Regions from separate parts of the Homo sapiens genome. Here region 2 is linked to region 1. The links come from fine-mapping of genetic effects on gene expression. A gene starts in region 1. The other region holds a variant in brackets. All regions are shown on one strand. Distances are from middle to middle.

Region 1 (16,178 bases):
GCCCAGCATCCAGCATTTTTGTTGTTCCCCCTTATTCCCTCCATGCCTTGCTAGGGATAACCTGGTAAACAAACAGAAATCTCAAATTCAATAAGCACCCCCATTTGATAAGCATTTACTAAATCCCCATATGGGAGGCACCATGGGCAAACAGTGGAATGACAAGTGGATAACAGGATGGAGCCGAATGATCTGGGCAGTGGGTGGGGACAAGGAGCGGTTCAGAGTGTGGGCTCTGGACTGGAACAGCAGGTGTGTGTCCTTGGGCAAGGTACTTTGTAGTTCTGTGCTTCAGTTTCCTCATCTGTCGAATGACATGTTTGGCCTATGTAGTAAGGGGTCAAGAAGTATCTGCTTTTATTAATAAGTATTAGTTTTTATTCTTACTTGATTCATTTTTAAGAAAAGAGTCTGAGTCTAACCCACCCAGCTGGGTGGAGCTTGGGCCTGAGGACCCCTGCCCTTGGAATACAGGAGTTTTGGGCTAAAGAGCTGACCAAGCTGGTTGGGCTTAAGGCAAACTCCAGAGACCAGTTCCAACTCCCGAGGCTCCCATTCCAGGCTCTTAAGGGGAAACTGCAGGATGGGCCCTCCGTTACCTGGAGTTAAGTGCAAAGAACCATCTCTCACGGGGCAGTACTGGCTCAAGCGAGACCCAGTCAGACAAAGCTCAAGACCTTTTCACAACGCTTGTGAGATGGGGCAGGGCAGGGGGTCCTAACTTTACCCCCCGTTTCGCCCCCCAGCAGGGCAAGGATTCCCCTTTCTCACGATGATTCAATCACATCCAACCAGAGTCTTAGCTGAGGCCCTGCCAGGTGCCAGGGCCTGGTCCCATTCCTGGGAGCAGAGATGAAGACCAGCTTCCTACAAGCCTCCTATGATGCCTTCCTACGAGCCTCCCCTATGATGATGCAATGGCACAGGGCCTCCTGTCACTCAGTAAAGGCCGAAGGAATAAACATTAGCAGGAATAAGAGACAAGCTCTGAATCCAGGAAGACTTCTCGGCAGAGGCAGGATCTGGACTGCAGCTTGGAGAAAGGGTGGATCTTTGATAGATAAAAGTGAACAGCTAGGGGAGGAAAGACTTCAACAAAGGACAGAGGCGGGGGACCAGGGGTGCGGTGGGGCACCCCAGGGGCTGGTGTGGATGAAGCAGAGGACTGTTGGGGCCCAGAGGAGGGACACCAGAGGACAAGCCCTCAGGCAGCCCCACGAGCCTGTTTTGCCCCCCGCCAGAGAGCTGAGGCTGGCACACAGGGGTGGGAGAAGTTCCTTTGTCCTTCTCCTCTTTCTCTGCAACCCTGCCCAGGAAACCAATGATAGCTGCTTGGCACAGAGTTCCCTGTGTTTTTTCATAATCACATAACCGTACTTGAGCACTGCCAGAAGAATTTAATCTCAGGAAGCAGAGAAGCATGAGGAAAGAAGGCTGGTGTGGGAGTCAGAAGGCCTAGGTTTTGGTCCTTGGCTCAGCCACCGACTTTCCCTGTAACCCTGATCTGGTCACCCCAAATCCCCAGCCCCAGATATCATTTTCTTCATCTAACCCAAGGACTGGCATAGAGCTGGCATTTAAAAATGTTTGAAGCCAAGTGCAGTGGCTCAGGCCTGTAATCCCAAGCTTTGGGGAGGCTGAGGCAGGAGGATCTTTGGAGGTCAGGAGTTTGGGACCAGCCTGGGCAATATAGTGAGACCCCATCAAAAATTGCTCTAATTAGCCAGGTGTAGTGGCATGCACCTGTAATCCCAGCTACTCAGGAGGCTGAGGTGGGAGGACTACTTGAGCCCAGGAGTTGGTGGCTGCAGTGAGCTACGATCGTGCTACTGCACTCCAGCCTCGGTGACAGAGTTGAGACCCTGTCTCTATTTTTAAAAAAATAATAACAAAATAAAAACATTAGTTGAGTGATTGAAAGTATTAGATAGTCTCAAAGGCTCCTTCCTGTCTTGAAAATTCTGAGACCCATGCAGGAATCAGTTGCCATTTAGATGATGTAAAACAGTGGTCCCCAGCCTTTTTGACACCAGGCACCGGTTTTGTGGAAGACAATTTTTTCCATGGACAAGGGGTGGGGGAGGGAGATGGTTTCAGGATGAAACTGTTCCACCTCAGATCATCAGGCATTAGTTAGGTTCTCATAAGGAGCGCACAACCTAGATCCCTGTCACGTGCAGTTCACCGTAGGGTTCACACTCCTATGAGAAGCTAATGCCACTGCTGATCTGACAGGAGGCAGAGCTGGGATAACCAGCAGGCAGAGCTTGGAGGTAATGTTCATTCACCCACTGCTCACCTCCTGCCATGCAGCCTGGAGGTGCACAGTCTATGCACCTTCGGTACCAGTCTATGGACCAGGGGTTGGGGACCCCTGATATAAAAGGTAAGTTGACTGAAAAATCTGTTGCAAGTAAAACAAAACATGTCTATCCCTGAATCTAGGGATGGAGGCAGTTCCAATTATAGCACATCACAGAGGTTGGAGGGAGGGAAATAGTTCCCCAGAGGAAAATCTGGATCTAGTGTCCAGAAGACAGGTGGATATTGGGGAGTAGGTATGGATCTGGAGAAATCAATTCCAGAAAAAAGCAAAAAGCAAAACATCCGGATTCCTGCCACTACACATACACACCCCTGTCCACCCACATACACACCCACGATATTGAAAGGGCAGCTGGATAGGTGAGTAAATAGTGGGGAAAAACGAGAGCCACTTGGTTCCAACTAATGCTTTCAAAGAATTACAAAAGGCAGGGATGTTTGACAGGGGGTTAGCATATCATCCGTGCAGCTGGAAACAGATGAGAAAGGTAATAGCATGTAAAGCCCCTTCCCATGGGAAGGCTCTCCTGGCTCTGACTCAGGCCAACTGGCTTCTGAGCCATCAGAAGCTTTGTCAGAAAGGTGGGTGAGCCCTCCGCACAGAAAACCAAGGGTGGGCTAAGGCCCCAGGGGAGGAGCTGGTGTTGCCCCAGTTTGGAGGTGGGTCATCCTATGCTTCCCGGCATGTGAACAGCTTCAGCTCCAGAGGCCCCGAGACTCTTTTAGGCAAGTTTATATGGTTCTCAGATCCTACATACGAAGGAGGTACCATGAGACCCTCAGGGAAGCATCTCCCACCACTCCCTAATATGGTGTGTCTTGTGGCTGAGCAGAGGCCCCCAGCCCCTGGGAGGACCAGCCAAGCACAGTGGGAGTAATGGGGGTCTGAGGAGCCAGCCATGGTCCCTGGGAATTACATGCTCCAGAAATACCCTTAGCTCTCCCATGTGGGCCGAGACCCACTGCCCTGCTCAGAATGCCACTGGATAGCCCCAGTCTACGGGCTGCCCAGGCATCTCCTGGGCCTGCCAGCCATTAGCACCAAGTCCAGATAACTCAAGACCAAGTCCAATTCGCTAAGCCCTGCCACGAGATCCCCAAGAGTGCCATCCAAAGAACCACAAAACTCCCACCAAGCAAACAGACTTCAGTTACTAATCAAATCAGCCCATTAATTTCAAAGATCACCCGTGACAGCTTTGCTGCTGGTAGAATCACAGCAACTACTTTGAAAGCACCCTCGGCCAACTCCAGTGGCTTGAAGCCCACCGAAGTTGGGTGCTGGCTCGCCTTCAGGATTCAGGGCTGCAGGAAGTGCTCTCCACCTGCAGGGATATTTCAGAAGCCTCAGCAAGTGGAATCTTGGAGCTCTTCTTCCTGCATGCTTCGAGATTAAGGGTAATGTATGTGCTGAGTTTAAGAATTGCCGTCATGGCTGTGTCAGGGCACCAGATTCAGAAAATTGCACCACAATCAGAGTCCAGATTCTGGTCAGAGCCCTGTCTCTTACCAGCTGCGCAATCTTAGGCAAGGCCGTCTCTTAACCTCTCTGACTTCCAGTTTCCTCACTGGATAAAGGAAACCTCTGCTGCCAGCACGGGCTACCTGCCCTACCTACTCAGAGGTGCTGTCAGTGTCAGCCCCGAAGGTGTCAACTTACTTTATGTAAAAATCTGTTATTTTATGGAATGAAAACTCCAACAATGCACTGGCCCACCGCCAGGAAGGATAGGACATTGTTTTGTAGTAGCAAGCTGATTTTTATACCAACCCTTCTTGCTTTCCTCCCACATTGGTCCCTAGTGACAGCCCACAGATTCCTCCAGTTGAGGAAACACTCTGTGGCCACAAAAGCAAGCCACAGGAATTGGTCCTCAGAGCCACAGAGCCTGTGACTGTGACATCTCCATCCCCATGGCCGCGCTGGTCCCAGCCCCGACTGCCTCACAGTGTCTTCAGGTCTCTGCCTAGGAATAATCCTGAAACCCCAGAAAGACTCACCAATTCCCAGCATCTTCCATACGGGAGGTAGAAACAGCTGGTAGTCTTAATTAAGTAAAGATGGAAAAACCAAACCTGGCCGGGCCCAGTGGCTCACGCCAGCATTTTGGGAGGCTGAGGTGGGCGGATTGTTTGAGGCCGCACTTCGAGACCAGCATGAGCAAAATGGCAAAACCCTGTTCTACTAAAAATACAACAATTCGCTGGGCATGGTGGTGCATGCCTGTAATCCCAGTTACTCAGGAGGCTGAGGTAGGAGAATCACTTGAACCCGGGAGGCAGAGGTTGTAGTGAGCTGAGATGGCCCCACTGCACTCCAGCCTAGGTAACACAGCAAGACTGTCAAAAAAACAAAAAACCTATGAGGCACGGGGTAGTGGTGGGGCAGCCTAACGCTCAGCAACAGGAAAGATGAATAAGAGTTGGGCTAAGAGCTAAGTCCAAGTTAAATCCAGCCCATATTTGTCGGTAGTCTGGGAGCCTGTGAAACTGTGAGTACTTTGCCAGGTGCTGAGGTGGGAAAGGCAAAGGCATGGCCAAGATAAACAGGGCAGAGGTTCCCTTGCTGTGGGGGAGGTGGGTATGGAGCAGGTCACTGTAATACTGCGTGGCAGTGGAGACCACGCGCTCGGAGTGCTGGAGGGCACAAAGAATGGAAATTCTCAGCTCTGCGGGGCAGTGCAGGGAGCTTTGGGAGCATATTTGAGCCCGGTGTTGAAGGCTGGGTACTTTTTCATGCAGAAGAGTGAGGGGCAGGCCGTCTGGGCAGATCAAACAGCTGTGCCAAGTCCCAAGGTGTGAGGGGAACCCTGGAGGGCTAGAGAGAAGCCTGGGGGTGAGTGGCTGGGCCATACCCTGGAATTACAATTATATCCCAAGGGCAGTGGAGAGCACTTAAGGAGTTTTATTTTATTTTTTATTTTTTTTAGAGACAAGGTTTGGCTCTGTCGCCCAGGCTGGAGTGCAGTGGCACAATCATTGCTGACTGCAGCTTCGAATTCCTGGGCTCAAGCAATCCTCCTCCCTCAGCCTCCTGAATAGCTGGGACTACAGGCCTGTGCCATCATACCCGGCTAATTTTTGTGTTTTTTTTTTTTTGGAGAGAGAGGGACTTGCTATGTCACCCAGGCTGGTCTCAAACTCCTGGGCTCAAGCAATCCTCTTCCCTCAGCCTCCTGAATAGCTGGGACTACAGGCCTGTGCCATCATACCCGGCTAATTTTTGTGTTTTTTTTTGGAGAGAGAGGGACTTGCTATGTCACCCAGGCTGGTCTCAAACTCCTGGGCTCAAGCAATCCTCCTCCCTCAGCCTCCTGAATAGCTGGGACTACAGGCCTGTGCCATCATACCTGGCTAATTTTTGTGTTTTTTTTTTGGAGAGAGAGGGACTTGCTATGTCACCCAGGCTGGTCTCAAACTCCTGGGCTCAAGCAATCCTCCTCCCTCAGCCTCCTGAATAGCTGGGACTACAGGCCTGTGCCATCATACCCGGCTAATTTTTGTGTTTTTTTTGGAGAGAGAGGGACTTGCTATGTCACCCAGGCTGGTCTCAAACTCCTGGGCTCAAGCAATCAACCCACCTCGGCCTCCAAAGTACTGGGATTACAGGTGTGAGCCACTGTACCGGCCTCCTTTAAGGAGTTGTAATCACAAAGTGCTTATCTTTGTATTTCATAATGCTGGGACAGACAGAAAAGAGACAAATTAGAGAGAGTGGGACTGCAGGAGGTGGTAGAGGCAGGAAATAGGGAGCCTGGGACAGTGGGAACAGCCACAGGCTGGAGGGAGGCCTCATCCATGCTGAGGGTGAGATCTTTGGGGTCCTGACCCTCTCATAGGACACTCAGGATTTCCCTCTGCTGACCGAGGCCCCATCTGCTGGCCCAGCAAGACTCACTAGCTCTCCTGGATTGTGCCCCTTCTCTGGGGGCAGGAAAGCCCTAGCCGCTCTTTCCGGCTGCTTCATTCTGCTGCCTCCCAGCTGGGTTAGTCCCTGGCTGCTGATCTCTCAGATCCTCTTGATCCCTACTCCCTCCGACCCGGTGCTCAAGGGACTGTGCTGTGCAGCCATCGTTCCCCTCCACCATAGTGAGTGTCTACACAGTGAAAACTCCTGAGGCATAGTTCCCATTTCCATGAGGAGGCACTCCCAGCCCCTGGCTGCCAAGGCCTCTGGCTGCTGAGGTCCCTGCCCAGACTTGCAAGACATTTTTCTGTTTTTTCATCCTCCTCCCAAGGCTGCTAGCCATGGCTCCCACCTGTCACCTGCGCTGAGCTGGGCCTCCCCTGATTTGGCCAGGGTGAGCACAGCTGAGCCTGGATGGGGTGATGTGGGGATGCCATGTGGCTGGGTCCCAGCTGACGGGGTGCAACGGGAACTGTGGTAAAGAGGGCGCCCAGAGCGGGTACTCAAGGTAGCATGGGAGAGGGCTGGCTTCAGATACCATAAATAATACAGGAATCAAAGTTCAGAGAGGCCACGTGGCCTCTTCACTGTGTGCATATCCCAGGGGCTCACTGGGAAGGATACAGCTGGGGACTGTTAAAGGCAAGACCCTTGATCTCCAGGAGCCGCTAGTCCAAAGGTAGAGAGCCGATGCTCTGCTGGGCATGACCATTCCAGAGAAGAGGTACAGAGCTGCAAACTGCTACAACTGGAGGGACCCCCGGGCTGTGCCAGGGTTGGGGACACAGCTTAAAACTTCAAAGTCCAGCCAGGAGGTAAACACATAGCTAGGGCATGTGATAGGGTCTCTGGCAGAAGTCTGGAGTGCAGTGAGGCCTGAGTTAGCATTCAAAAATGGGCCTTGCCTTCCATTCACAGTTGTCCTCAAACATCGCAGGCTGTGGCTCTCGTTAACCTTCTGGAAGCGGGGGATTCCAAGTACCTAGACTCTGAGTTTACATGGCCTCAAGGGTTTTCAAGAAATGATTTCAGGACAAGCTCTGTGAGTATGATTGCATCATCCAGAAATGTACCCAAATACTGATTTAGTATTGTTTTTCCTTTGGTCTGAATTTCAAAACTCGAATTTCCTGCTTTACTTCACTTCACTTCAGGGGAAATCCCAGACATTTAAAACATCAGCTCTTCAGTTAAAATACCACGTAACCCATTCTCTCCCAATCCTCATCTATGTCTCCAGCCCTGAGGTTTTTCTTTGTTGCAATCAGCCTGTGGAACGGTTTGGGGTCTGGCCTTTTCACATAGCATTCCTGCACACACACATTCCAGCAACACACTTATTAAACACACTTACTGTATTTAATGGCCATGCGGGGTTCCATCATGTGCCCTGTCCTAGTTTTCAGCTTGTGTTTCAGCCAGTGACTCTACGGCTTTGGGCAAGCCTAACCTTTTTTGGGTCTCACCTTATCTGTAAAACATGATGATTTGGAAGCTCTAACGTCCTTTCCAAAGCCTTAAAATTTGTGGGGGGTCTATGATTTCCTAGCTGTGGATCCTAAATTGTGACTACACAATAACAATCCCTAGAAGAGAAAGGGACCCAACATCTATTGAGAATTCCCCATGCGGCGGGAAGGCACTGAGCGAGGGATAGGTAGGAAAAGTGACACCTAGGCTTGCCAGCAAAAACACCATCAGAGGCCCCCCTGAGTGATCTCAGACCCCTTTGTTCCCAGTCCGGCCTCTGGACTTTGTCCCATTAGGAAATGGGGGGAGGGGGACACTCTCCCTCCCTCCCTCCCTCCCTCCCTCCCTCCCTCCACAGTGAAGCCACAGCCCTCCAGGTCTTATGACTGCTCTTCTCCTCCATGACAAAGCACTTTTTGAGCCCAAGCCCAGCCTAGCAGAGTGCTGAGTCACGGTGGGACAGCAACTCTCCACCGCAACCCCCACCACCGCCCCCTCCTGCTCCAGGATGTGCTGAACCTCCAGAAACCACCGGCTTGGCTCTTCTCTCATCTGAGGTCCCTCCCGCCACTCCTGGCCCTGGGAGGCGGCTGTCCTGGGAGACCAGCCAAACTCTCTGCTGCCTCCAAGTCACGAGGAGCTGAGCTGGAGGGTGGGGGAGGTAGAACCCTGGTCAACAAAGGTCCCAAGACCAGGCCACAGCTTCGGAAGAATCTAAAGGCTTAGACATTGCAGTTCTGACACCTCAAGTTACCAGAAAGTAGGGAACGGACACAAGCAATCATATAAACAATCATAAACACACACACACACTCACACTCCCCCACCAATAGATTTCCCTTCCATTGTTCCCAGCCAGCCTCCTCCCAATGACCTTCTACAGCACAAGCTGTCCCTCAGTCTTGCTGCGATGTTCACTGCAGCTACATGCATGTTTAGCCAAGCATGGAGCCAACACTGATTCAGGAAACCTACTCCCTGCAGCAGACCGACTTCCCTCCAGTGGGTCCGAGAGCTTCATGCTGGCTTTGTCCCCCTGGACATCCCGGAAGCCTGGAAACTCAGCACATCTAGTCCAAAACCAAGCAGGCCTTCCCCAAGGGCTTTCCCCGAAACCTTCATTTCCTCCTGTGCTCCTTGGCTCAGGGAATGGCAGCAGCAGCCAGGCCTACCAAATCATAAAGCTGAGAGATCTCTTACACACTGCCCACCCCTGGCCCCCGACTTTCGCCAATCAGTCTGTTCATTTGATCTTCTCCAGATCTGTCAAATCTGTGTTCTATCTTCTCTGCTCACTAATAACTAAGGCTGCTGCCTCCTGACTGGTGCCCAGCCCTCTAGCCTCACTCTCATCCATCCTCCACATTCAATCATGAATCCATCTGTTCATGCAACAGATACTGGGCACCAAGTAACAAGCAATTTGCAAAAAGCTGGGAGTGCAGAGACAAGACAGAAACAATGCCTGCCTTCCAGGAGCTTACCATCTACAGCACCAGCGCAGGCAATCAAAAGGGTCTCATAAGGCCAGGTGCGGTGGGTCATGCCTGTAATCCCAGCACTTTGGGAGGCCGAGGCAGGTGGATCACTTGAGGTCAGGAGTTCGAGACCAGCCTGGCCAACATGGTGAAACCCCGTCTCTATTAAAAACACAAAAATCAGCCAGGTGTGGTGGTAGGCACCTGTAGTCCCAGCTACTTGGGAGGCTGTGGCAGGAGGATCTCTTGAACCCGGGAGGTGGAGGTTGCAGTGAGCCGAGATCAAGCCACTGCACTCCAGCCTGGGCAACAAGGGCAAAACTCCATCTCAAAAAAAAAGGTGTGACACATACATAGTACTTCATTAAACATACAAATATATATTATAGTTCCTAATCTTCATCACTTACATGAGCTACAAATATCATCCCAATTTGTCATCTCTGTTTTAACCTTGTTTACAACATCTTTTGTCTTACAGCTTTTCATTTTTAAATAGGCAAACCTGCCAACTGTACTTTTACGGCTTCTGACAGCCTCAGAAGAACATTCCCTACCCCAAAATTATAAAAATAATCTTGTATATATTCTTCTCAAAACTTTATACTTTTTTTAAGGCTTGGATTTTTAATCTATCTGGAATGTATTTTTAAATACTGAGTGAGTCACTTTTCTCCACATGACTGTCAATTGTTTCAACATAATTTGTTAAACCCATTCTTTCTTCCCTAATGTGACACAACAGTTTAGCATATACCAAGTTCTCATAATAGGGGGGCAGGACTATTTTGTTGCATTAATCTAGTCATCTCTTCCTGTGCCAGTACCATACTGCTTATAGCACTTTACTGTACCTTTATTATAGCACCAAATGCAAATCTATCAACACACTGACTCCTCCAAATGAACTTTAGAATCATTTTGTGAAGTTTCAAAAAAAAAAAAAATACTGTCCCAGAGACAGTAATGGCTGAGGAAAAACAAAAACAAAAAACTGCCTCTTATGGAAATTGCAGTGAATTTATGCTTATTTGGGGAAACTGACATCTTTACAGAATGAAGATTGACCGACCATTTGGGAATATGGTACCTCTTCATTTATGCTAGGCTTTTTGAATTTTTTGTCCAGCAGTAAGCATTTATAGTTTTTTCTATATATTTCTTGTTAACTTTATTCCAAGGTACTTTAAGCTTTTGTTGTCAATGTAAGTGAAAAACATTTTTTTTTCCATTCTTTTTTCCCCATATTTTCTAACTGGTGGTTACTGTTATAAAGGAAAGCTTTGGATCCTATATATGGTGACTTTGCTATACTCTTATCCTAAGAGATTCCCAGTGTAAGGTTTCTAAAAACAAAGCTAATGAGGTGTCTCTATGCTGTCTCTAGGATCAAGTTTAACCTCTTTTTATGGAACACAACCCTGCCCGATCTTGCCCCTATTCTCCACCCTAACCAGCATCCCCCAACATAAACTGTACTTTCCAGGCCAACATTCTTTCTTTCTTTCTTTTTTTTTTTTTTTTTTGAGACGGAGTTTTGTTTTGTCTTCCAGGCTGGAGTGCAAAGGCGCGATCTCGGCTCACTGCAACCTCCGCCTCCCAGGTTCAAGCGATTCTCCTGCCTCAGCCTCCAGAATAGCTAGGATTACAGGCGCATGCCACCACGCCCGGCTAATTTTTGTATTTTCAGTAGAGAAGGGTTTAGCCATGTTAGTTAGCCAGGCTGATCTCCAACTCCGACCTCAAGTGATCCGCCCGCCTCGGCCTCCCAAAATGCTGGGATTACAGGCATGAGCCACCGCGCCCAGCCCCAGGCAACATATTTTCTTAAGGCAGCTTTAACAGGCCATGCATTTCCACATTTCCACACCTTTGCATATGCTGTTCACTCTGCTCCAAATTCCCTTCCCTGTTTCTCTCCCGCACTTCACCTTCCTTTTAACTTTTTCTTCAAACTCAGCTCACGTGTCTTGCTTAGGGAGGGCTTCCCCGACCTCCTCCTATCCCAGACTGGGTAAGGTACTCCTGGTCTAGCAGCATCCTTCTGTTTACCTTATTCTTGTAGCTCTAGCACCACTAAAACGTTTTTCCTGTAAATAACATAGGTGCATTTTTAAATGAAACCGTGAACAAGAAATCACCCTAATTCCGTCGGCAATTTATTTTAGTATTTCAGTAGAGTTGCTTTTTTAAACTAAGGTTTGGAAGTCTAGCTTCCAGCTGCAGGTTTGTGAGCATCCTGAAATTCAGTTCTTCCACCGATGCGTCAAAAGACGCGACAGAACAGTGGACCTCGAAGCCAGGACCTAGGTAAGGGCAGGGCCTAGCTCTAGCTCTGCCACCCATAAATTCACATCCACCCTGTGCCTGGGACTCAGCTTAGCCACACACACCGGCCCCACCCCTCCGGGGTCTCTTTCACCTGTCACCCGCCATTAACCCCGTCAGCTTCTCTCCAATGACACCCCAGGGTTGTCCTACAGGGCCACCGAAGCCTGAAGCTCCTGTGAGTGGGGCCGATAAGAGGCCATTTTGAAAAGTCCTCAGCATGGGCTTCGCCTTTAGATCCACGTCGTTTCTCCTTTCTAACCCGAGATGTGTCCCTTGGGTGCGAAGCGACACCAGCGATTCTCTCGGAGGCCCCGGTGGCTCACCCCCACGACTCCCCGGGGAGGCGGTCCCCATCCCTAGGGAAACCCGGCCCGCCCAGCCTTTGTTGCAGAAACCGCACACGGAGCCATATTTGCTTTCAGCCAAAGGCAGACGTGGTCGGAGGAGTCGGAAGGGCAGGGGCGGACCCGAAACCCGCCGTGCGCCCCACTTCTCCATCGCGCTCCTTCCTGGACTCTGAGGAAGAGAAAATGCGCTCGACCACCTAAGGACCGCGTCTCCACCTTCCACCTTCCCAATCATCTGCAGCTTCCCAATCTGCAGCAAGGTGTCACAAGGGCTTCTCCGCAGCTATGATTTCTAACACCATGCCCCGGGCCAGGAGCCTCAGGGTGCCCGTTCGGGAAAATGGGAGCCGAATCAGGATCACCCCATGCGCCCCCGCACCCTTCCCCCGCCGGTTCCAACGCCCGGGCGCCCCTAGACCGGGGGGGGGGTTCTGAGGTGGACTTCCTGCGCCTCCTCGCAGCTTCCCTCCAACTCCACTAAACGGGCACAGAGACGCCACCGCTGTCCCAGAGGCAGTCGGCTACCGGTCCCCGCTCCCGAGCTCCGCCAGAGCGCGCGAGGGCCTCCAGCGGCCGCCCCTCCCCCACAGCAGGGGCGGGGTCCCGCGCCCACCGGAAGGAGCGGGCTCGGGGCGGGCGGCGCTGATTGGCCGGGGCGGGCCTGACGCCGACGCGGCTATAAGAGACCACAAGCGACCCGCAGGGCCAGACGTTCTTCGCCGAGAGTCGTCGGGGTTTCCTGCTTCAACAGTGCTTGGACGGAACCCGGCGCTCGTTCCCCACCCCGGCCGGCCGCCCATAGCCAGCCCTCCGTCACCTCTTCACCGCACCCTCGGACTGCCCCAAGGCCCCCGCCGCCGCTCCAGCGCCGCGCAGCCACCGCCGCCGCCGCCGCCTCTCCTTAGTCGCCGCCATGACGACCGCGTCCACCTCGCAGGTGCGCCAGAACTACCACCAGGACTCAGAGGCCGCCATCAACCGCCAGATCAACCTGGAGCTCTACGCCTCCTACGTTTACCTGTCCATGGTGAGCGCGGGCGGGCCTAAGCGGTGGCGGGGGCCGGGCGCGGTTCCCGGGGCGCGCGCTGGGGCGGGCCGGGGGTGTGGCCACCCGCGGGCTCTCCCGCCTCCCTGCGCCCTTCTGGAAAATGGAGGCTGCTCGAGGTTTCCGAGGACTTCTCTGGCGCAGAAAGTCGGGGCAGCTGGTTCTTCTCGGCTGTACCCTGAGAATGCTCCCTCCTAGGCCAGGGCCGCCTCTGCACACCCTTCTTTTTTAAGGAGACCTTGGTGTCCTGAAATCCTGGGGTTGCAAGACTGCCAGCCTGTGTGATCAATCCTGCGGTTAGGAAGGTGGAGTTTTGCTTTCCCATCTTTTCCTCTGCCTCCGGCATTTGGCCCTAAATGCCAGCGTTTTTTGCTTAGGTATCCAGCTCCCGTCCGCCTGTGTGTGGCGGAGCTGCTGGGTAACGGTGTCGAATAGCAAACCTTGGGGGCTGGCGGGAGGTGGCTTATCTTGTGGGTAGATCCCTCTCGAGCAGCCGTATCCACCTCTCGGCTCTGCTTATCTCTAAGTCCCACTTGCTTTGAAGCATATCTCTAGGAATCGCCCCTTCTGCAGTCACCGAAGTGTCACCTGACCTTGCGCCTAGGGGACCTAATTTATCTTTTATGTATCTTACTGTAAGAGGTGTGGAGTTTGGCCTACTAATTGAACCCCCAGTTCTTGGATAAAGTCCACCGACAGTTACTGGGCAAGAAATTTTTCAGTGATCAGTGGAATCAGTTTTCCCAAATCTTGGTCTTAGGCAGTGTCGTGGGAGTCTTCCTTAGAATTGCCTTGTGATTGTCCAAACTATCCCAAGAATAAATGTGTTCCAAATGGATTTGAAAACAGGCCTGTATTTCTGTGACTGTCACTGCCTTTCACAAACACTTGACTACATCAAATGTCTAAAACTGAAAATCAAATTTTTGTGATATAACTATTATAAAAGTATGTTTACATCAACATACTGTCCACATTTGCCACCTTGCATGGGGGTTTTTAATTTGTGTGTGTGTGTGAGAGACAGAGTCTCGCTCTGTCGCCCAGGCTGGAGTGCAGTGGCGCGATCTCGGCTCACTGCAGCCTCCGCCTCCTGGGTTCAAGTGATTCTCTTACCTCAGGCTCCTGAGTAGCTGGAATTACAGGCGCACGCCACCACGCCCAGCTATTTTTTTTTATTTTTAGTAGAGACGGGGTTTCACCATGTTGACCAGGATGGTCTCGATCTGCTGACCTCGTGATCCGCCTGCCTCGGCCTCCCAAAGTGCTGGGATTACAGGCTGAGCCACCGCACCCAGCAGGGGTTTTTAATTTTATAAATAAATATGTGGTACAGCTGGCAGACTCCTGAGCTCAGTTTTAACCATGCTTTAACATGGTTAATACAGGAGCAGGGAGGAGAAAAGGACTAAGTGCAGGGTCAGTACTCCAGCGCCCTCTCATCAGACAATGAATTCTGACACTGGCTGTAAGTTTTCTGTGCAGTAATACAGATCCTTAAGACATTGCCCCAGGCAATGCCCATAATATCCTAAAGGTTCCTTGAAGTTAAGTTTCAAGGATCAAGTTTCAGTTTTCTATTTTAGAATAGAAACATTACTCTTGGGTTCAATCCAGTAGCTCATCTGCCCCCCAGTCTCCTTAGGCACTGATTCCTTCATGCTGTGCTTTGAGAAAGGAAGCCTAGGCTGACGAGACCATCTTGCCTCCCTGTAGATCGTCACAGCTACCTGTCTCTGGGGATCCCTAGTATAACACATTCAGTGTTCCCCTTTCAGTCTTACTACTTTGACCGCGATGATGTGGCTTTGAAGAACTTTGCCAAATACTTTCTTCACCAATCTCATGAGGAGAGGGAACATGCTGAGAAACTGATGAAGCTGCAGAACCAACGAGGTGGCCGAATCTTCCTTCAGGATATCAAGGTGAACAAAAGATCCTAGGGGTGTCATACTTCATCATCTGGCAGTGTTCGGGTATCAGAAATCACTTAAACTAGCAATTGCCCTTATAAAGTGATGATACACTGGGCTTTTGCCTTTTGTGCTTTTTTAGGCTTACCATCTAAACTAAATTAGGCAAATAGTAATGTCCCTTTTGCCAAAACGTGGTGGTTAGAGATGATGGGCTTGCTGACTTCTAGGTTAGTTGGTAGAGATGCATTAACCTATTCTCATTCAGAAACCAGACTGTGATGACTGGGAGAGCGGGCTGAATGCAATGGAGTGTGCATTACATTTGGAAAAAAATGTGAATCAGTCACTACTGGAACTGCACAAACTGGCCACTGACAAAAATGACCCCCATGTGAGTATTGGAACCCCAGGAAATAAATGGAGGAAATCATTTGCCTTAGGGATTGGGAAAGCTGCCCACTAACTGTCTTCCCCATTGTTTTGCAGTTGTGTGACTTCATTGAGACACATTACCTGAATGAGCAGGTGAAAGCCATCAAAGAATTGGGTGACCACGTGACCAACTTGCGCAAGATGGGAGCGCCCGAATCTGGCTTGGCGGAATATCTCTTTGACAAGCACACCCTGGGAGACAGTGATAATGAAAGCTAAGCCTCGGGCTAATTTCCCCATAGCCGTGGGGTGACTTCCCTGGTCACCAAGGCAGTGCATGCATGTTGGGGTTTCCTTTACCTTTTCTATAAGTTGTACCAAAACATCCACTTAAGTTCTTTGATTTGTACCATTCCTTCAAATAAAGAAATTTGGTACCCAGGTGTTGTCTTTGAGGTCTTGGGATGAATCAGAAATCTATCCAGGCTATCTTCCAGATTCCTTAAGTGCCGTTGTTCAGTTCTAATCACACTAATCAAAAAGAAACGAGTATTTGTATTTATTAAACTCATTAGTTTGGGCAGTATACTAAGGTGTGGCTGTCTTGGATTCAGATAGAACTAAGGGTTCCCGACTCTGAATCCAGAGTCTGAGTTAAATGTTTCCAATGGTTCAGTCTAGCTTTCACAGTTTTTATGAATAAAAGGCATTAAAGGCTGAAGTAGTCTGGGATTTTTATCTATTAAGCTAACCATTTGATTCAGGCTGTTGTAGGACATGTTCTTCAGTGTGGACAGCTGTATGGCTGTGACTGGATCAGTGTCCTGCTGGTGTACACACAGGTGAGGACCTGGCTGGCGAAGCATCCCCATTAGGAAGCAGGTTAGGAATGTGCTTCATCCCTAGTGAGAATGAAAGTATTAACAGCATAAGTATGGAAGGTCCCTTCATTTCAAATACCAAAATGTTGCAGTAGGAGGGCAAAGG
Region 2 (16,204 bases), 30 kb before region 1:
CCTCAAGGGATCCGCCTGCTTCAGCCTCCCAAAGTGCTGGTAGGCGTGAGCCACCTTGCCCGGCCATGTTTTTAATTTTTTTAGAGATGGGGTCTCACTCTGTTGCCCAGGCTGGAGGGCAGTGGCACCAGTATAGCTCACTGCAGTCTCAACCTCCTGGGCTCAAGCAATCCTCCCACCTCAGATTCCTGAGTAGCTGGGACTTCAGGCATGCACCACCACACCCAGCTAATTTTTTTTTTTTTTTTTTTTTTTGAGACAGAGTCTCGTTCTGTTGCCCAGGCTGGAGTGCAGTGGCGCGATCTCTGCTCACTGCAAGCTCCGTCTCCCGGGTTCACACCATTCTCCTGCCTCAGCCTCCCAAGTAGCTGAGACTACAGGCACCTGCCATCATGCCCGGCTAATTTTTTGTACATTTAGTAGAGACGGGGTTTCACCATGTTAGCCAGGATGGTCTTGATCTCCTGACCTAGTGATCCACCTGCCTAGGCCTCCCAAAGTGCTGGGATTACAGGCATGAGCCACCGCACCCGGCCCAAAACGTTTTTTTTTTTTTTTTGAGATGGAGTCTTGCTGTGTTGCCCAGGCTGGAGTGCAGTGGCATGATCTCGGCTCACTGCAACCTCTGACTCCTGAGTTCAAGTGATTCTCCTGCCTCAGCCTCCCAAGTAGCTGGGATGACAGGCACCTGCCACCATGCCTGGCTAATTTTTGTATTTTTAGTAGAAATGGGGTTTTGCTATGTTGGCCAGGCTGGTCTTGAACTCCTGGCCTCAGGTGATCCACCCACTTCAGCCTCCCCAAAGTGCTGGGATTACAGGCGTGAGCCACCGCGCCCGGCTAATGTTTTATTATTTATAGAGACGATGTCTAGCTGTGTTGCCCAGGCTGGTCTCAAATTCCTGGACTCACACAATCCTCTTGCCTTGGCCTCCCAAAGTGCTGAGATTACAAGTGTGAGCCACCACAGCCAACCAACTTTTTCTTTTATATTGAGGCAAAATTCACATCCCATAAAATTTACCATTTTGGCCGGGCGCAGTGGTTCACGCCTGTAATCCCAGCACTTTGGGAGGCCGAGGCGGGCAGATCACGAGGTCAGGAGATCAAGACCATCCTGGCTAACATGGTGAAACCCCGTCTCTAGTAAAAATACAAAAACATTAGCCAGGCGTGGTGGTGGGCGCCTGTGGTCCCAGCTACTCGGGAGGCTGAGGCAGGAGAATGGTGTGAACCTGGGGGGTGGAGCTTGCAGTGAGCCGAGATCACACCACTGCACTCCAGCCTGGGTGACAGAGCGAGACTCCGACTCAAAAAAAAAAAAAAAATTTTTTTACCATTTTAACCAAAGTGTAGAATTCATTTTAAAGTGTAAAATTTATACATTCAAAATGTTGTGCAACCATCACCACCATCTCATTCCAGAACATTTTTATCTCCCCAAAAGGAAACTCCATACCCATTAAGCAGTGACTGCCATTGTCCCTTCTCTCCAGTTCCCCAGCAACCACTACTCTGCTGTCTCTATGGATTTGCCTATTCTGGACATTTCTTTTTTTTTTTTCTTTTTTTTTTGAGACAGAGTCTCGCACTGTCACCCCAGCTGGAGTGCAGTGGTGTGATCTCGGCTCACCGCAAGCTCTGCCTCCCGGGTTCACGCCATTCTCCTGCCTCAGCCTCCCAAGTAGCTGGGACTACAGGTGCCCACCACCACACCCAGCTAATTTTTTGTATTTTTAGTAGAGACGGGGTTTCACCGTGTTAGCCAGGATGGTCTCGATCTTCTGACCTCCTGATCCACCCGCTTCGGCCTCCCAAAGCACTCGGATTACAGGTGTGAGCCACTGCGCCCAGCCTGGACATTTCATATAAATGGAATCATATGATATGTGGGCTGTTGTGTCTGGCATCTTGCATAGTTTCCAAGATTCATCCATGTGGTAGCATCTATCAATACTTCATTATTTTATGGTTGAAGAAAACTCCATGAAATGAATAAATATAGCATATTTTGTTTACCCAATCACCAGTTGATGGGCATTTGGGTTGCTTCAAACCTTTGGGTATTACACATAATGCTACTATGAACATTCAAGTACCAGTTTCTGTTTTCACTTCTTTTGGGTATATACCTAAGAGTGAAATTGCTGGGTCATATGGTAATTCCACAGTTAAGTGTTCGAAGACTGCCAAAAAGTTTTCTACAATAGCTGTACCATTTTACCAGCAATGTATGAAGTTTCCAATTTCTCCACATCCTCACCAACACTTGTTATTTTCAGTGTTTTTAGTTATAGCCATCCTAGTGGGTAGGGAGTGGTATCTCATTGTGGTTTTTTTTTTTTTTTTTCAAGACGGGGTCTTGCTCTGTTGTCAGTCTGGAGTGGCACGATCTCGGCTCACTGCAACCTCTGCCTCCTGGATTCAAGTGATTCTCCTGCCTCAGCCTCCCGAGTAGCTGAGACTACAGGTGCGTGCCACAACGCCCAGCTAATTTTTGTATTTTTAGTAGAGACGGGGTTTCACCATGTTGGCCAGAATGGTCTGGATCTTTTGACCTTGTGACCTGCCCACCTCAGCCTCCCAATGTGCTGGGATTACAGGCATGAGCCGCCACATCCAGCCCTCATTGTGATTTTTATTTGCATTTCCCTAATGACTGATGATGTTGAGGACCATGTTTATTGACCATTTGCAGATCTTTTGCGGAGAAATGTACAATCAAGTCCTTTGCTCATTTGTTTGTTTGTTTTTTGAATTGTTGAGTTCTAACAGTTCTTTACGTATTCTGGATCCTAGACTCTTATCAGATATATGACTTGCAAATATTTTTCCCATTTTTGGGTTATTGCTTCACTTTCATGATAGTGGTCTTTGATGCACAAAAGTTTTAGATACCAATGAAGTCCACTTTTTCTTTTGTTACTTGCTTGTGCTTTTGGTGTCATATCTAAGAATCCATAGCCAAATCCAAGGTCATGAAGACTTAGCCCTATGTTTTCTTCTATGAGTTTGGTAGTTTTTAGCTCTTACATTTAGATATTTGATCCATTTTGAGTAAATTTTGTACATAGTATGAGGTAAGGGTCCAACTTCTTTCTTTTGAACATGGATATCCAGTTGTTCCAGCCTGTTCCAGCTCCATTTATTGAATGACTGTGGCCCCTCCAACTTTTTTTTTTTTTTTAGATGAAATCTCGCTCTGTCACCCAGGCTGGGGTGCAGTGGCGCATTCTCGGCTCACTGCAGACTCCACCTCTCGGGTTCAAATGATTCTCCTGCTCAGCCTCCCAAGTAGCTGGAATTACAGGCACCTGCCACCACACCGAATAATTTTTGTATTTTTAGTAGAGATGGGCTTTCACCATGTTGGCCAGGCTGGTCTCAAACTCCTGATCTCAGGTGATCCACCCTTCTCAGTCTCCCAAAGTGCTGGGATGACAGGCGTGAGTCACCGTGCCTGGCCTGTGGCACCCTTTTTGAAAGTTAATTGACCTTACGTGTATAGGTTTATTTCTAGACTCTAAGTTGTACCTCATTGATCTACACCATTAATTTCTAAGGCATTGGAGAAAGAGGCAAATGAACACAGGTCCAACTCTTTAGAGAAACAAATTTAATAAAGCAAAACACTCTTCTCCCTGGACTACATTGGCCTGGGCAGAATATTTGGGGTTCATGATAGATTTTCAGTCAAAATATCTTATCTAAATTTTTTTTTTTTTTGAGACTGGGTCTCATTCTGTTGCCCAAGCTGGAGGGCAGTGGCATGATTGCAGCTCACTGTAGACTCAGTCTCCCGGGATCAAGCGATCCCTTTACCTCAGCCTCCCAAGCAGCTGGGAGTATAGGCATAAGCACCACATTCAGCCTTATCTGAACTTTGAACATTGGTATGACCTTGGTTCCTTTTTCTTTGGAGACGAAGTCTCGCTCGTCGCCCAGGCTGGAGAGCAGTGGCACGATCTCGACTCACTGCAACCTCCATCTCCCGGGTTCAAGCAGTTCTCCTGCCTCAGCCTCCCAAGTAGCTGGGACTATGGGTGCGTGCCATCACAGCCGCCTAATTTTTTTTTTTTTTGAGACCCAGTCTTGCTTTGTTGCCCAGGTTGGAGTGCAGTGGTGAGATCTCTGCTCACTGCAAGCTCCGCCTCCCGGGTTCACACCATTCCTCTGCCTCAGCCTCCCAAGTAACTGGGACTATAGGCGCCCACCACCATGCCCAGCTAATTTTTTGTGTTTTTAATAGAGACGGGGCTTCACCATGTTAGCCAGGATGGTCTCGATCTCCTGACCTCGTGAACCACCCGCCTCGGCCTTCCGAAGGGCTGGCATTACAGGCGTGAGCCACTGTGCCCGGCCAATTTTTTGTATTTTTAGTAGAGACGGGGTTTCACCATATTGGCCAGGCTTGCCTTGAACTCCTGACCTCAGGTGATCCACCTGCCTCAGCCTCCCAAAGTGCTGGGATTACAGGCGTGAGCCACTGCATCAAGCCCCTTGGTTCCTATTTTATTCCCAGAAGAGAAACTCTTCTGGGGAGGTGGCCATCCACACGCTGAAAAATGGCTTCTCCTTTTTAATCTTAACCAACTGTCCAAGTCAGAGAAACACAAATTCACGCTGTAAAGTCTTGGCCTAGGAGTCACTTCCCCTGGGGAAGCTGGTAGCCCCCCATCTTGTCAGTGCCCTTCCTATCAACCCCTCAGTAAGCTCTCCTAAAAGAAAAAGGCTGTGAGTCCAATTATATGGTTTGTGGGAGAGAAAAACCCTTGGTCCCCTGGGTGGTAGCAAATGGAGGACACTTAAAGGCTGGCAGTTGGTGTCTGGGGAACAGTCTGGATCTCCTATACTCCACGACCTACAGATTGCAGGCAGCTGGTCAGGTGGAGTCAGGCAGTCAGTTCTCCCATCCCCCGTCCCAACCCCCGACATCATGGGACAGAAAAAGCTGGCACCCGTGGGTGGGAAGAATTTCAGAGAGAAAGAGGGAGATTGAGCAGAAGAGGGAGGCTGCTTGCAGCCCTGAATAACATCTTTCTTTGCATATTTTCTTCCTCCAGAACAGTTTGGAGGCACAGTCCAGCTGCTGCCTTGGCTTTTGATCAGAATGATTACCCACAGGCCCATCCTTTCTTAGCACTGTTAGAGAACAGAGAGATGGCACTGGCTTCCAAAGTGTCCCGCGGGTGTCTTTTCTGCCTTTTTCTATCCTTCCATCCATTCCTGTGGGTTCTCGGGCAGCTGCTCATTTGAAAGAGAGGAGAGAGACATTTTTTTGTTTGTTTGTTTTGAGACGGAGTCTCGCTCTGTTGCCAGGCTGGAGTGCAGTGGCACGATCTCGGCTCACTGTAACCTCCGCTTCCCAGGTTCAAGCGATTCTCCTGCCTCAACCTCCCGAGTGGCTGGGACTACAGGCACATGCTACCACCATGCCCAGCTAATTTTTGTATTTTTAGTAGAGATAGGGTTTCACCACGTTCGCCAGGCTGGTCTCGATCTCCTGGCCTTGTGATCTGCCTGCCTTGGCCTCCCAAAGTGCTGGGATTACAGGTGTGAGCCACTGCGCCCAGCTGAGAGACATTTTTTAAGAGCAAAATCCATGCATGGCCAGGCCTCGGAATCTTTCTAAGGCCTCCTAGACTCTCAGGGGACCCACCATGGCAGTGGCACTGACATGCAGCCCAGGGTTGTGGTCCAAGGAGGGCTTATGAGCTGACTCAGAGGAAGTAAGCTTGTTCTTGGCTGCAGGGCAAGACTAGCCATGGAGGTGGGCTCTGGCCAGCTGGTCTGATATTCTTGCTGGTCCTGACTTTCATTTCCTCTGGAAATCCCGCACACTTGACCACAGAGGCTTTTGCAATATGTGTGTATCCTAATTCCCCTGGGGTTTTTCTCTTTTTGTTTTCTGAGGAGTGGGTCCACTTCAGTAAAATTACACACAAAGTTGGAGCTTTCTGTTCCAGGAAGGCAAAGGTTACAATTCTAGCAAGCCTAACACCCAAAAACACAAAACGCTGAAACCAGGAGAATGAGTTAGAAAATATGTATCCATGGCCAGGCGCAGTGGCACACGCCTGTAATCCCAGCACTTTGGGAGGCCAAGGCGGGTGGATCACGAGGTCAGGAGTTCAAGACCAGCCTGGCCAAGATGGTGAAACCCCGTCTCTACTAAAAATACAAAAAAATTATCCAGGCGTGGTGGCGCATGCCTGTAATCCCAGCTACTCCAGAGGCTGAGGCAGAGAATTGCTTAAACCTGGAGGGGCAGAGGTTGCAGTGAGCCGAGATCGTGCCACTGCACTCCAGCCTGGGCGACAGAGCGAGACTCCGTCTAAAAAAAAAAAAAAAAGAAAATTTGTACCCTGGCAGGTCACGGTGGCTCACACCTGTAATCCCAGCACTTTGGGAGGCTGAGGAGGGTGGATCACCTGAGGTCAGGAGTTCGAGACCAGCCTGGCCAACATGGTGAAACCCCGTCTCTACTAAAAATACAAAAATTAGCTGGGCGTGGTGGCAGGCACCTGTAATCACAGCTACGCAGGAGGCTGAGGCAGGAGAATAGCTTGAACCCGGAAGGTGGAGGTTGCAGTGAGCCGAAATTGCTCCACTGCACTCCAGCCTGGGCGACAAGAGCAAGACTCCATCCAAAAAAAAAAAAAAGAAGGCGAGGCGCAGTGGCTCGCGCCTGTAATCCCAGCACTTTGGGAGGCCGAGGCAGGTGGATCACCTGAGGTCAGGAGTTCGAGACCACCCTGGCCAACATGGTGAAACCCCATCTCTACTAAAAATACAAAAAATTAGCTGGGTAGGGTGGCAGGCACATGTAATCCCAGCTACTTGGGAGGCTGAGGCAAGAGAATTGCTTGATCCCGGGAAGCAGAGGTTGCAGTGAGCCAAGATCGCGCCACTGCACTCCAGCCTGTATGACAAGAGCGAGACTATCTCAAACAAAACAAAACAAAACAAAAAAAACAGAAACCTAGCTCCTTCAGCCTGTTCCCACCTGTGTCACTTACTTTTAAAGTTCTGCAAGCCATGTGGGCCCACCCACTTTTTCCAGCCTGGGGTTCCCTGGGTTCTAGCCCCATGCAGACAGAGAACTTCCGACGGACTTGTTCACAGGGGCTGGGAGTCTTCCGGTTTAAGTAAAGGATGGTGGCAGAGGTGCATCTTCTGCCCCAGAAACATCTCGGCTGAAGGAGACTCCATCTGCCTGGCCCAGCGTAGGGAGAATATCAGCCCATTGTTGGTGAAGGTGTTTCCAGGGACAGGGACAGTGGGCTGCCTCTTTCTCCAGCGATCTCCCCTCAGGGGCATATGTGAAGAGGAAAGCTGAAGAAAGAAAAGGCCAACTCGTCCTCTTGGCTCAACTTGTCTCTCCAAGTCATCTTCTTCCTCACTCCATCCAAACCCAAGTACCATCCACCCATCCAATAGATAATGACTGAACATCCCCAGGTGCCAGACACCCTTCTAGGTACTGGGATACGGCAGTGATGATGACAGTAAGGCCCAATGACTCTCAGAAAGTTCACACTATAGTCAGTGGAGGCTGGAAAGGGTCAGTATATTCCACGGAAATAGTGTTAACTACAAGAAAGCAAAACCAGTAATGGCATAGAGAGGGACTGAGTCTTGGGGAGATGAACTCCTTTGCGGAGGGGTCAGGGAAGGCTGCTAGGAGCTGACTCTCCAGCTGAGCCCTCCATTCTGAGAAGAGGCCAGCCCAGGAGAGATTAAGGGAAGAGCATCCGGGCAGAGAGAACAGCGAATATGGAAGTCCTGAGGGGCATCGAAAATGCCGGAATCTGGAGGTCCAGGGAGCACTCTGGAAAATCTCTTGGATTGTTATCCCTCTCATCTGGTTACTCGCGGGGATGCTCATGGAAGCAGGAAATCTTTCCTGTCTGCATAAAGTGTATACACATTTACATGGAGCGTTGGCCAAGCATGGTGGCTCACGCCTGTAATCTCAACACTTTGGGAGGCTGAGGCGGGTGGATCCCTTGAGGTCAGGAGTTCAAGACCAGCCTGGCCAATATGGTGAAACCCTGTCTCTACCAAAACTACAGAAATTAGCCGGGAGTGGTGGTGCATGCCTATTTTCCCAGCTACTTGGGAGGTTGAAGCAGGAGAATCGCTTGAA[C/T]CCAGGAGGCAGAGGTTGCAGTGAGCTGAGATCGTGCCACTGCACTCCAGCCTGAGCAACAGAGCGAGACCCTGTCTCAAAAAATAAATGAACACATGGAGCGTCATTTTGACTAAGCAGAGCCGTCGATGGCAAGCTACACTGTCAGCAGGGACCCTTAGCTTTCACGAGGAGAGAACACAGCCTTCTGTTTTCTCTTCAGTGCCTCATGGAGTCAGACATTCCCATCACTCGCTGTACAGACTGCCTGACTCCCATGCGCCAAGGATGAGGGTGATGAAATTTCTTCTCTGGGTGAAAATGCTTCTGCTGACTTCTCTTCGTACACACAAATCTACTGAATACTTACAAACACAGTCTTTTTTGGCAAGATAGGCTCCAAACTCCTCTTCCAGCAGAGGGAACAAAGGTTTTGCTCTCTTCTTCCAGCAGATGTGGAGCCAGAGAAGGTACAGATTAACCTTGCAGTGGGCTCCCTGCCAAGGCTCCGTGCAGCCCCAAAGCCAGGCCCTTGAACTGCGGACTAAGAGGCCTGCTCCCACACTGCTAGGCCACCCACTGAGCTCAGGACAGCTTCTTTTACTTAATTGACCAGAAAGACGCTGAGGGGTCTCAGGGGTAGGCAAGACGAGCTTAGGAACTTCGAGCCCTCACCCCTCTATTCACCCCTCTCATTGTTTCCTCCAGCTGACCCTCCTGAGTTAACCCCCCACACCAGGACTGGGAGATCCAATCGACAGGTGTGGTTTTCTCTAGGAAAATAATCATGATAATGACATGCAGGGGGAGGAAAAATCACTCAACCCCCTCCCAGATCCCAGGGTGAGGGTGTTCCTGATTTCGTCACTTCCTGGGGCTTCTTGACGGTTTCTCCTTAGGGTCTTTCTAAAGGCCCTGGGGCAGCACTTTGCCACCAGCCACCGTAAGCAACACAAAGCGCGCCCAAGTCTACCTCGGGCGGGGCCTGTCTTTTCTCTGCACCGGGCGCCACTTCGGCAGGCAGGAGAGCAAGGCTGGGGAGGGGACCAGGACGGAGAGGAGGTAGGAAGCATGCCACGTGGCACAAAGGCCCAAGAAGCAGACACTGGATCCGAAGACGATGAGCAGAGTGGGAGCAGGCTGCGTCATAGCGGGGGCACTCAGAGGCTGTGGATGTTACTCCCCAGGACAGGTAGCAATGGGTTAAGGAACAGGCAGAAAGAAGGGTCCCATTCTGCTATGGACCAGCAGAGGAAGGGGCCACATCATGGTGAGTCCCCCAACCCCACCTGGACTGAGCCTCTGGTTCTCCTGGCCCAGGTGGGCGGTCCGGGAGAGCTGGTGAACATCGCCAGCCTGGTCCTGCATGTAGAGGAGTCCTGGGCTGGGGGCAGCCTGGACTTGGTCAAACCACCCAGGTAATTCTTCCTTCTGTACACAGCCGAGGGTCAGGACATGCTCCCCTAAAAACCCCGGCTTCCCATGAAAGTCTCAACAGAGGCAGAGTGGGGGCAGCTCCAGCTGCTGAGAATTCCCAGACATCATGATTTCTAAAGCCACTTTTACTCTTTAACCATGTTTGACTCTGTGACACTTGGGCTTCAAGGCCACCTCAGAGAGATAAGGAGGTATAAGGTCAGAGCTGCTAAGCAATAAACTGTGGTTTAGCAGTGGGGGCAGGGGTTGCAAAATCTAGGCAAACGATCAATGATGTTATTGTCGGGACACTCAACAGGTTACAGGGTCTTCATATCCGTCCATCCTCACAGGGACGCCAGGAGGTGAGCAGAGCAGGAATGACCTCAAGCAGATGCACATCCAGAGAGGAGGTGGGCTTCACTGCCTATGGCCCTACCCTACTCTGGGCCTTTAGGGTCTGCCTTTATTTTATTCTATTTTTTAATTTTTATTATTTATTATTTTATTTATTTATTTATTTATTTGAGACAGAGTCTTGCCCCATCACCCAGGCTGGAGTGCAGTAGTGCGATCTCGGCTCACTGCAACCTCTGCCTCCCGGGTTCAAGTCATTCTCCTGCCTCAGCCTCCCAAGTAGCGGGGACCACAGGTGCCTGCCACCACGCCTGGCTAATTTTTTTTTTTTTTTTGAGACGGACTCTTGCTCTGTGGCTCAGACTGGAGTGCAATGGTGTGATCTCAGCTCACTGCAACGTCCGCATCCCGGGCTCAAGTGATTCTCCTGCCTCAGCTTCCTGAGTAGCTGGGATTACAGGTGCCTGCCACCATGCCCAGCTAATTTTTGTATTTTTAATAGAGATGGGGTTTCACCATGTGGGCCAGGCTGGTCCTTGTAATCCACCTGCCTCGGCCTCCCAAAGTGCTGGGATTACAGACGTGAGCCACTGCACCCAGCCTATTTTTTAATTTTTTTAGAGACAGGGTCTTACTCTGTCACCCAGGCTGGAGTGCAGTGGTATGATTATGGCAACTTCGAACTCCCCAGCTCCAGCAATCCTCCCACTTCAGCCTCCTGAGTAGCTGACACTACAGGTGCACACCACTGGGCCCAGCTAGTTTTTTTGTTTGTTTGTTTTAGTAGACAAGACCTCTCCCTATGTTGCCCACGCTGGTCTCAGAACTCCTGGGCTCCAGCGATCCTCCCGCCTTGGCTTCCCAAAATGTTGGGCTTACAGACATGAGCCACTGCATCCAGCTATTTATTTTATTTTTTAAATGACACATAATTGTACATATCAGTGGGGTACATAGTGATATTTCAATATATACAATTTCTAGTGATCAGATCAGGGTAATTAGCATATCCATCTTCTCCAACATTTATCCATTGTTAGAAACAAAATGCTTGTTCCTTGGTGCCGCAAGGAGAAATCAGCATTCAGACAAAAAGTTTTCACAGCAAGGCAATTTTACTTACTGCAGAAAAGGTGCTGCTTGTCAGCAATCTTGCCACGAGACCACACTGAACAAAGAAAGACAGGAATATTTATCCCCTATGCACTGGGTCCTTACTGCTGTGTCCTATCTCCATTGGTTGGAGCTGGACCTCACAGTCTAAGTTAAACCCAGCTGGCTAACAATTTAAGACTTTCCTAAATAGGTAAAGGTAATGGAGAACAAAAGGAAAAGAGGCTTGCGAAAGGACTTAGAGAAGTAACAACATTTCCAAATAAGGAAGGGGCAAAGGCTGTGAGCTGGGACATGCCTGAGCATGCCCAGAACAAATATCTTGGTTAAAGTACAAGGACATAGAATATACTTATTCCCTTATATCTAACAGCTACGTAGGATAGGGCTTAACAAAGAGTTATTAGCAAAAAGCAAGAAGGCTTTGGAGGAAGTTAGTCTTTAAAATAAACTATTATTTCTAACATTTATTATTTATTCTTTAACAAGAAGGGAAACTTTGAAGAGGAATTTTACTTTCCACATCCATTTTTCATTTCTTTTCTTTTCTTTTTTTTTTTTCTTTTTTTTTTCTGAGACAGGGTCTCACTCTGTCACCCAGGCTGGAGTGCAGTGGTGCCATCTCAGCTCACTGCAACCTCTGCCTCCTGGTTTCAAGTGATTCTCTTGACTCAGCCTCCTGGATAGCTGGGATTACAGGCATGAGCCACTGTGCCTGGCCCACTATGTCTTAAAAGTGCTGGAGGGAAGTGGGAGCCGCGACCCTTCCAAAGGACACCTTTCATACCTTTCATACCGTGCTGCAGGCAGACAATTTATTGAAAAGCAATCTGCCCCAAAACAACCCACCAAAAATCAATTTGACAAATTCACCCTAGAGCCCCTAGGCTGGAAATGACGTCTCTCTGTCTCCACTTCAAGCCTGTCTCCCAGAAAGTATTTTTTTGTTTCTTTATAACATGACAGCTCAGCATGTCATTAAAGATTTTTCCTCGTCATTCTATTCCCCTGGCCTTCTTCTCCTCCTAGAATTTGTATTTCTAGCCAGCAGAGTTGAGACATGGGACCAATGATTTACTTAAGCAGATGTAATCGCCGGGCATGGTGGCTCACACCTGTAATCCCAGGACTTTGGAAGGCCGAGGCAGGTGGATTGCTTGAGCTCCGGAAGTTTGAGACCAACCTGGGCAACATGGCAAAACCGTGTCTCTACAAAACAAACAAACAAACAAACAAAAAAAAAACCAAAAAAGACAAAAAATCAAAAATTAGCTTGGTACGGTGGTATGTGCCTGTAGTCCCAGCTACTTGGGGGGCTGAGACAGGAGGATCACTTGAGCCTGGGAAGCAGAGGTTGCAGTGAGCCAAGATCGTGCCACTGCACTCCAGCCTGGGTGACAAAGTGAGTCCCTGTCTCAAAAGAAAAGAACACATGTGTTGAACATTGCTCAGAAAACAAGGCCATGCCTCTTTTTATGATTTTTTTTTTTTTTTGAGACGGAGTCTCGCTCTGTCGCCCAGGCTGGAGTGCAGTGGCGCGATCTTGGCTCACAGCAAGCTCCACCTCCCAGGTTCACACCATTCTCCTGCCTCAGCCTCCCGAGTAGCTGGGACTACAGGTGCCCACCACCATACCCGGTTAATTTTTTTGTATTTTTAGTAGAGACGGGGTTTCACCATATTAGCCAGCATGGTCTTGATCTCCTGACCTCGTGATCCGCCCACCTCGGCCTCCCAAAGTGCTGGGATTACAGGTGTGAGCCACTGTGCCCAGCCTTTTTATGGTATTTTTATCTTGTAGACCCACGGAGCTTCTGCTCTCATCTCCCTAAACAAGGGGCAGGAACAGAGTGCTGACTCTCTCCCCCACAGCACAGAGCATTGTGCTTGCTATGGAGTGAATTAAATATTAAGTGAATATTTATATTAATATAAATATTATATCATCTTAATATATCATCTTAATATTAAGACGAGTGGATGGGTAGGTAGCTGCATAGATGATGGTTCTGTCTTGCTTATGAAGATTAGTCATCCCTCAAGGGCCATCATTAGCCAGGATTTGATTCCCTGCAGGCCCCAGCACTGGTTCTAAATGTAGAATGTTTGGTCCTATCCATCCTTTCCCCAGGGACAGAATAGGGGTCTCCTCCTGCCAGAGGCCCCTCCAATGCCCACTCTTCTTCTCTGAAGGTCATTCTCCAGAAATGCCTCTCTATCTGCAAAGTGTGGCTTAGTAGGGATTGGCAGATCTCCCTCTCAAGACCATTTGCCTCCAAAGCTTGATCTCTGAGCCTGGAACAAAGGGCTTTGTTGTCAGGTGAAAGCCTTCCGCAGCCCTAGAGCCAGCCCCACAGCGCCTCCCGCTACAGATGCTCTGCCTGACACCCTACTATCCTGGAGAAGCTGGGAGGACATTGGCAGGGAGGGATGAATAAAATGAAGCGATCCTTCTGAAGAACACAGCATAAAATCCAGAAATTGCTCCCATGGCCTATGGAAAGCTGATGTCTGATACAGACAGCATCCCAAGTCATGGGAAAGAATGGGTGACTTTGGTAGGGCACAATGGCTTATGCCTGTAATCCCAGCACTTTGGGAGGCTGAGGCGGGTGGATCACCTGAGGTCAGGAGTTCGAGACCAGCCTGGCCAACATGGTGAAACCCCACCTCTACTAAAAATACAAAAATTAGCTGGGCCTGGTGGCATGCACCTGTAATCCCAGCTACTCGGGAGGCTGAGGCAGGAGAATCCCTTGAATCTGAGAGGTGGAGGTTGCAGTGAGCCGAGATTGTGCCATTACACTCCAGCCTGGGCGACAGAGCAAGACTCCGTCTCAAAAAAAAACAGAAAGATGGGCTGGGCGCGGTGGCTCAAGCCTGTAATCCCAGCATTTTGGGAGGCCGAGGTGGGCAGATCACGAGGTCAGGAGTTTGAGACCAGCCTGGCCAATATGGTGAAACCCTGTCTCTACTAAAAACACAAAAAATAGCCGGGCATGGTGGCAGGCGCCTGTAATCCCAGCTACTCGGGAGGCTGAGGCAGGAGAATTGCTTGAACCCGGGAGGCAGAGGTTGTATTGAGCCAGAGATTGTGCCATTGCACTCCAACCTGAGTGACAGAGTGAGACTCTGACTCAAAACAATAAATAAATAAATAAATAAATAAATAAATAAATAAATAAAAAAAACAGAAAGAATGGGTGACTTCATAGCTGGTGTCAGGATAGCAGGAGAGCCTTGTGGACTCAGAACCAGCTGGAAGCACTCCTCATGCTGTGGACCACAGTGCATTCCAAAGGGGTTGGAGATTTATTTATTTATTTATTTATTTAGCGACGAAGTCTCACTCTGTCACCCAGGTTGGAGTGCTGTGGTGCAATCTGGGCTCACTGCAACCTCTGCATCCCAGGTTCAAGCAATTCTCCTACCTTAGCCTCCCGAGTAGCTGGGATTACAGGTGCCTGCCATCACACTCGGCTAATTTTTGTATTTTTAGTAGAGACAGGGTTTCACCATGTTGGCCAGGCTGGTCTTGAACTCCTGACCTCAAGTGATCTGCCCGCCTTGGCCTCCCAAAGTGCTGGGATTACAGGTGTGAGCCACTGTGCCCGGCGGGGTTGGAGATTTAAATGTAAAGATGAAACCATACAAGTCTAACAGAAAACATGGACCAATTCTCTTATAATTTGGGAGTGAGGAAAAATTTCCTAATTCTGACTCAACACCTAGAAACAATAAGGGGAAAAGATGAACAAGTCTCAAGGAATTAAAGTTCTGTATGGAAAAAAAATTAAATGAAAATTTTAAACATATGCGAAATTAAAAAGACAAATGATAGACTGGTTTAACAAAAAACAACAACCTTACAACCTACATCACGGACAAAGGGCCAATATTCTTAGTATATGAAGAGCTCCTAATATAGATTAAAAAGGCCAACAACCTGAAAGAAAAATGCCCTAAAAATACAAACAGTTTACAGAAAAAGAAAGGCAAATATTTCAAAACTATACGGAAAGACACTCAACCTTGCTTACAGTAAAAGAAACACAAATTGCCCCAAGTAACTATTTCTTGTTGATCAGATTGGCCAAAATCCAAAAGCTTAATACTCTATACTCTCTTTTCCAAACTGTGAGAAAACCAACATTCTCACATATTCCTGGTGGGAATGCAAAATGGTACGGTCACTGTAGAAGAGAATTTGGTAATAGCTAGCAAAATTATGAGCGCATTTGCCCTTTGATCCTGCAATCCCACATCTAGGAATCTATACTAACGATACACTGCAAACAATACAAAAAGACACAGAGATATGCTGTTTATTGCAGCTCTGTTTGTAAAAACCAAAGCATGGGAAAAAGCCAAAAATCCATCAATAAGGACTTTGAGAAATAAACAATAGCACATCTACACAATGGGGTACTTTGCAGCCACAAAAAGAACAAGGAAGATCTCTACAAACTAATATAGTGTGATCCTAAGGACATCTTAGGATCTGTTTCTCTAAGAAGGAAAGATATAAACAAAAATACGTAAATACAGGGCCGGACACGGTGGCTCACACCTGTAATCCCTGCACTTTGGGAGGCTGAGACAGGGAGATCATGAGGTCAGGAGATCGAGACCAGTCTAGCTAACACGGTGAAACCCATCTCTACTAAAAATATAAAAAATTAGCCAGGCGTGGTGGCACGCAGTCTGTAGTCCCAGCTCCTCGGGAGGCTGAGGCAGGAAAATCGCTTGAACCCGGGAGGCAGAGGTTGCAGTGAGCTGAGATCACGCCACCGCACTCCAGCCTGGCGACAGAGCGAGACTCTGTCTTAAAAAAATAAAAGTAAATACTTTCTTATAATTAAATACCAAACATTGATAGTTTAACAGAAAGAAAGAATACAGTGGGGGGAGAATAGACACAAGATCCACTTATTTATTTATTTATTTATTTATTTTTGAGACAGGGTCTTGCTCTGTCACCCATGCAGTAGCATCGTAATAGCTCACTGCAGCCTTAAAATCCTGGGCTTAAGCGGTCCTTCCACCTCAGCCTCCCATGTAGCTAGGACAACAGGCATGCACCACCACATTTAGCTTTTTTTAATACAAAATTTTTAATTGTTGTACAGATGGGGTCTTGCTACATTGCCCAGGCTGGTCTTGAACTCCTGAGCTCAAGTGATCCTCCCC

The links. PIP is the estimated chance that this variant, and not a neighbour inherited with it, causes the effect. A credible set is the group of variants that fine-mapping cannot tell apart.
Region 2: its variant is the best candidate, but not a certain one, in a credible set for the expression of FTH1 in NK cells (Gilchrist 2021, PIP 0.68).

The regions. Positions count from the first base shown.
Region 1 is chr11:61,964,019-61,980,196 of GRCh38, reverse strand. It overlaps FTH1 (ferritin heavy chain 1), which reads left to right and starts at 12,563. Exons shown (of 4, transcript NM_002032.3): 1 at 12,563-12,885; 2 at 14,682-14,828; 3 at 15,085-15,210; 4 at 15,306-15,912. The coding sequence starts at 12,772. The coding sequence ends at 15,470. BEST1 (bestrophin 1) reads right to left here. Exons shown (of 11, transcript NM_004183.4): 11 at 15,736-16,093. The coding sequence ends at 16,075. LOC399900 (a long non-coding RNA gene) reads right to left here and starts at 12,903. Exons shown (of 1, transcript NR_187560.1): 1 at 11,318-12,903. RefSeq lists silencers at 1,600-1,816, 12,217-12,566, 12,837-13,036, enhancers at 8,078-8,222, 8,026-8,320, 11,457-11,506, 11,627-11,696, 14,328-14,557 and 1 more and cis regulatory regions at 8,145-8,155, 8,075-8,586, 7,832-8,591.
Region 2 is chr11:61,994,288-62,010,491 of GRCh38, reverse strand. No RefSeq gene overlaps it. Among named protein-coding and RNA genes, the nearest start is that of FTH1, 35 kb to the right of the region's middle. RefSeq lists an enhancer at 9,003-9,755. The variant C/T (reference allele first, on the strand shown) is at 8,150.